2 separate regions of the Homo sapiens genome follow, and region 2 is linked to region 1. Evidence: fine-mapped expression QTL. Tissue or cell type: hypothalamus. Region 1 holds a variant in brackets; the other region holds the start of a gene. All regions are shown on one strand. Distances are between the middles of the regions.

The links. PIP is the estimated chance that this variant, and not a neighbour inherited with it, causes the effect.
Region 2: NAPRT starts here. The variant in region 1 is fine-mapped to the expression of NAPRT in hypothalamus (GTEx, PIP 0.96).

What each region holds. Positions count from the first base shown.
Region 1 is chr8:142,819,102-142,821,851 of GRCh38, forward strand. No RefSeq gene overlaps it. Among named protein-coding and RNA genes, the nearest start is that of GML, 14 kb to the right of the region's middle. The variant C/T (reference allele first, on the strand shown) is at 1,030.
Region 2 is chr8:143,576,823-143,579,572 of GRCh38, forward strand. NAPRT (nicotinate phosphoribosyltransferase) reads right to left here and starts at 1,508. Exons shown (of 13, transcript NM_145201.6): 1 at 1,271-1,508; 2 at 994-1,121; 3 at 835-917; 4 at 447-577; 5 at 240-355; 6 at 1-20. The coding sequence starts at 1,496. RefSeq lists enhancers at 916-1,823, 1,824-2,732.

The sequences.
Region 1 (2,750 bases):
AGACGCCTAGAAGTCAGTGACCCTGCAGCAAGAGGGAGAGGAGCCCACAGCCAGGGCTGCTCTGATGGACGCCACAGGGCCGTGCCGACCCATGGCCCAGACTCCTTTTAGCAAAGGCCTCCTCTAGAAGTGTTTGCCAAGTGCTGGGGGTGGTAAGAAGGGGGTGCCAAGAGCTGCGCAGTTTGGGAGCGAGAAGGGGTGGGAGAACTGAGAGGGGCTGGGTCCCAAGGGGCAGTTGTACTGAGGAGGAGGCTGCCGACAGCGCTGGGCCCCCAAGCCTCTGCTGGGCTTCTGGGAAGCAAACGGCTAAGTGTCCTGTTCCCTGTAGCCCAGCTAAGAAAGACCCTTGAGGGAAGCAGGCAGCCACAGAGGCTGCACAGTCTTGGGAACCGTGGCACAGCCCAGGGTGGGCCAGGACAGTCCCCGTGCCCCTCACAGGCCTGGGGAGGGTAAGGCAGAGCCCATCAGGCTGTCCCCAGAGACCCCAGCTGCCTCCTGGGCCAGGAGACAGGAGTCGTACAGGTTGGCTAGGGGAAGCCCTGGGGGAGATGGGCAGGAGGAGGACGTGGCTAAGAGCTGGGGTGGGTGTTGCGGCCTCTCCAGGAGTATTCTGGAGAGAATTTCCTAAACGGAACAGGCTCTGTGAGGCCACCCACACTTGCTGCCTGCTGGCGACCCCTGGAGTGGCATCCCCCCTCACACTTCTGTGGGACCCTCAGACACAGCCGTCGCCATTGCTGAATGACCGTCGCTGGCCACACGGGCAGCTGGACCATGGCCACAACTCACCGAAGGGCCAGAGGCACGACTCACCGAAGGGGTAGAGGTGGGATGCTGCCCACTGGTGGGAGGAGAGTACAGAGATGGACTCTACCCAGTTGCGACAAATTCAGGAGTTTCCCGAAGGGACTGCGACCTCTGTAGGCAAGGCCAAAACATCTAGGGGAGGCCGGGCGCACACCCCCTGGACCAAGGGTGTGACCCAGGGCTGGCGAGTGGGTACCTGGGTGGGTCTGCCAGGTGGAGAGC[C/T]GGCCCTGTCTGCCAAGGGCCCTGAGGGCAGGATGTGGTCTGCCGGACAGCACGTCTGCTCACAGAGGGACCACCTCAGGAGGGCTTTCTTCTGAGCAGTTGTGCTTCCTGTCCTGAGCACCTTGGGGAAACTGAGGCAGGAGGTAGTGTGGAGCGGTGAGTATCTTGGCAGGGGTGCCTCTTCACCAGCTCACGCCGCAAAGCCTGCCTACCCCAGCCTCCAGCCCTCATGGGCCTTGGAACCCCTCCGGGCATTTCCACAGCCCACCCCCAGGAAAGCCTGGCTCACAGGTAACCAGAGCACACTCCTATCACAGTGAGTCCCACAGCACCCATGCCTGGATGCTGGCCAAGCTCAGGCGCCTGCCACTGCCACTGGCTGTGCCCTGCCTGCAGGTCTCCCTCATTCTACCCTCTCCTCAGATTCTCTCCTCTGCCTCCTCCAGGAAGCCTCCCGTGACTCCACCCAGAGCCCTCTTGTCCCTGAATTCCTGGGGTTCTTTTGGCTTTGGGGATAAGTGGGTGTGGAGCTGTCGTGTCCCTAGGTGCAAGCTGGACCGGTGCCCAGCCTCCCCGATGGCCTTCTTAGGGCCCACCCTGCAAACCTCTGCTTTATCTTCCAGATACAACCTCACCCATGAAGGGAAGGCCACGCCTGCATCCCTTAGGGTCAGAAGCCAAGACGCCCTGCAGGCTCTGCACCTGACTCTGGAGCCTAAGATCCCTAGAAGCAGGGCAGTGCTGCCTCCCTACAGCTTAGTCCTGCCCATGGTGGGTCCTTGGTTCAGCCATTCATTCATTCCCTCCCCTCCCCCCTGCCCCATGTCATAGACAGGCTGGCTGGGCCCTATGCCGGGGCTGGGCCAAATCCTGTATGTGCAGAAGGACCCCGTGAGAGCCTGCCCACAGCAAGGTCGGTCAGAAGGGATGGCTGAGACACAAGGGGCAGGGTTTACAGCCCAGGTGGGGGCAGCAGCGTAGGGTGCAGGAGCCCAGAGGGAGGGTGCAGGGCCATCCAGCAAGGCCAGCCTGCAGAAGGCCGTTCCTGCCCAGTCCAGGTGCAGAGCCTTACTAGGACCTGGGAGAGCAAAGGGACAGGCAAGGTCATACCTGCGGGGGTGTGGAGCTCCTCTGCTGGGCCTAGATGTTGAGTTCATACCCCTTTGCCAGGTTGGGAGAGGGCATCGGCTGGGGACAAAGCGGGTCAAGCAGGTATGAGATTACCCTTGGATCTCTTCCTCCTGCAGCTTGGAGGATGCCAGCAGGGGCCGGCGTTGAGGAGGCCCTCGGGTGGCATCACCAGCATGGCTCTGAGGGTCTCTATTTCCAGAGCTCTGCATCTGTGAGCTCAGGCTCCCCACCCAGTCAGCGAGGGAGAAGGCAGGCCGCTCCTCAGTGGACACATGCCAGTGGCCTCAGGTCCCATTGCTCCACCTCTCGCAGTGGAAGGCCACCCCCAATGTGCTGAGTCCACTCAGCAGAAGGGAAGCGCTTTCCCTGAGCTTGCAGGACTCAGCCCAGAGCCCGGTGCTTAGAGGGCTCTGTGAGCCTTTGGGCCCAGGGGGCCTGTAGACGCCTCTGGAGGCTGGAATGTCTGTGGAAAGCACCACCTTGCTGATTCTGCCGCAGAGGCTGGGCTGGCATGTGGGCTGGGGCTTGTCCTAACACTGGGACCCTGGCAGGTCTCTGGGGTTGCAGGCAGGAAGCAGGTAAGGCTTCCA
Region 2 (2,750 bases), 760 kb after region 1:
CCAGCTGCTGGCGCCAACATCTGTGGAACAGAGTCGGTGAAGAATGGGGGCCAGGAATGCAGGATGAGGCCTGGGAGCAGCCAGGGACACCCTAGTTTGAGAGCAAAGGTAATGCAGCCCGTGCCAGCTTCCTGGGACAGCACTGGGGTGACCTGCCTGGGTGGCACACCTCTCGCCAGGGCAAGGGCTGGCTTGGGGCCTGTCGCCTGGAGACAGCAGGGTTTAGAGGAGGGACTGACCGGGTCAGGGGGCACCTCGCTGCCTGAAAAGGAAGTGACGAAGGAGTGGGCCAGGGTCCCGGCCACCGGCACACCTCGCAGCTGGCCCGCTAGCACGTTGCTGCTGCTGTCGAAGCCTGGGGAGGAAGGCGGTGGGATTGGGGGACCTCGGGCCAAGATGGGGCTCCTCCTTCCCGGCCCTTGCCTTGCCCCGCACCAGACACTCACCGCCCAGGTAGCTGTAGGTGGAGGCTGTCAGGCCCCCATCGGGGCCCTGAGCCCGCCTCAGGCCCATCTCTAGCAGCCGCTTCTCTGGCCCTGCGATCAAGCGAAGCCGCGCTGCGTTGGTGGCCACCAGGCTGTGGGGAGCCAAGAGTCAGGGGGTCCCAGGGTGAGGATCACTAGGCCACCCAAGACGGCGGTTACCTGGGGCCTGGAACTTCCAACCTGGGAGCTCCACCCTCACCCAGCCCCTCCTTACACCCTGAAGAGTGGGGGCGGGAGGCCAGTCCTGGGACCCCTGGGCAGCCAGCCCCGCCGCCACAGTCCAGCACGGAGCCCCGGCGCTGGGGGCCCATCCCATGCCCACGCTCCCTGCCAGTGGCCCGCAGCCCACCTGGCGTAGCTGACCAGGCAGAGCAGCGGTGTCTCCAGCAGCTGCACCACCAGGAGCGGCCCGGACACCTGCAGGAGCGGCACCTGCGGGGAGAGAAGTCAGCTCCGCGCTCGGCCCAGCACCCCGTGGCCGCCGCGCCGCCCGCTTACCCCTACTCACTCCGGGGAAGGCGAGGGAGCCCTCGGGCAGGGCTCGCACCGTCACCTCGGAGCAGTCGAGGGCCCGAAGGTGCTCGAAGAACGCAGGATCCGTGTCTGGGGGCAGCACCGAGGCCAGGAACTGCACGTCTGGAAACGAGGTAACTGCGCTGAGACCAGCGCGGGGACAGACCGGTCGTGGGACATGGGGGGTTCCACGGGGGGACAAGGACTTCCACCGGCCATAGGTGGGGGTTTCTGCCGGGCGTGGGGGGCTCGTCGCGCGGACGGGGGACTACCGGCGTCCCGCAGGCGGAAGGCGCGCAGGAAGCGCACACAGTCGCGCAAGCCGGCGGCCAAGGCGAAGGCGCCGCCGAACGGGCAGCGGCGGAAGAAGAGCTCGAACTCGGCGGCGTCCCGCGCCCGGCCCGCGCGCCAATAGCCCAACGCCATGGTGGCCTGGTAGAGGTCAGTGAGCAGCGGCCGCGCCGCCGCGCGCGCCTCGGGGTCCTGCTCCGCCGCCATCCTGCTCCCGACGTCCGGACTCCGCCCCGCCCCGACCCCGTGACGCGCCCCGGCCTATGGCGCACTCCCTGTGGGGCTTATCGTGCCGTTTGGGAGCGGCACGGGACTCGATGGAGGACGGGTGGGGCTAATAGTATCGGCGCGCCGAGAGGGGCTGAAACAGCTGGACCCGGGATGGGGTGGGGGATGTCACCCAACTCCTCTCGGACCCCCCAACCCCACTCCAGGCCCAACGGCCTCTTTGGAGCGCAGCCCGGTCTTGGTCACCAGAGGTGCCCCCAGTCGCTCGTGTCTCTGCCCTTTGGCCGGGCAATGAGGTGCAGCTCAGGACTTGCCAGGCGGCGGAAAGGGTGGAGGACAGACCAGCCAGACTCCACCCCCACCGACCCAGAAGACAACCGCTGGCCAGCAGCCAGCTCCTGCCCTGGGCCTGGGGAGGGAGGCCAGAGGCTGCCTTAGTTAGAGCTTGAGCAGCCAGGCTAGGACGAGGCAGCCCAGATGGACGCAAATGTCGCTTGGAAAGAGCTTGGCACCCAGGAAAGGGCGGCGTGGGGCAGGGGGGCGCATGCCCACTGTCGGCTGGCACCAAAAGACCTTTTGTGGCTATGAAGGCCCAGTGTCCCTCAGTGGTGGCTTTTATGGGGTCCTGCAGTCCAAGCCCCACAGGAAACTTTCTAAAGGTTTGAGGGCAAAGTCAGGGGCCACTACCCAGGGAGAATCCATTCCCCTGTGGCTTGGGGCCCCGAGGACAGAGTCTGACCAGAAGTAATCAAGTAATTACACCCCATCCTCTTTCACCCCAATGCAAACACGGGTGGTCCAGGGGAGGGAGTGTGGCCACCCATGCTGACCACATACGGCTGTCAGGATGCTGAGGCACAGCTCCACAGAGCCCAGGCAGCCACGTTCTGGCCACCCCAGAACATCATGGGAGGGGCACAGTCCCTGGAGCAAGGGGCAGGGATTCCAGGAATGAATGAGGTGAGGGGAGGGCCGGGACAGCACATGACAAAGGGCATGGCAGCAGGGCCGGGTGCTACTGGGACTTCTTTCCTGGACAATTCCAGGCTTGCACGCTTGCTCCCATGGGGACAATGCCAACAGGAGGCAGAGTGGTGGGGTGGTGGCCTCTCCAGATAGTGACCTAACAGTTTCTGTTTCTGGCTTTTTAAACCCCCTGAACTGGACTTGCTTTTGCAATGGAAAGAAGAGGGAGGGCCAGAGCTTTGGGAGGGAGTGGCCAGGAGATGGAGG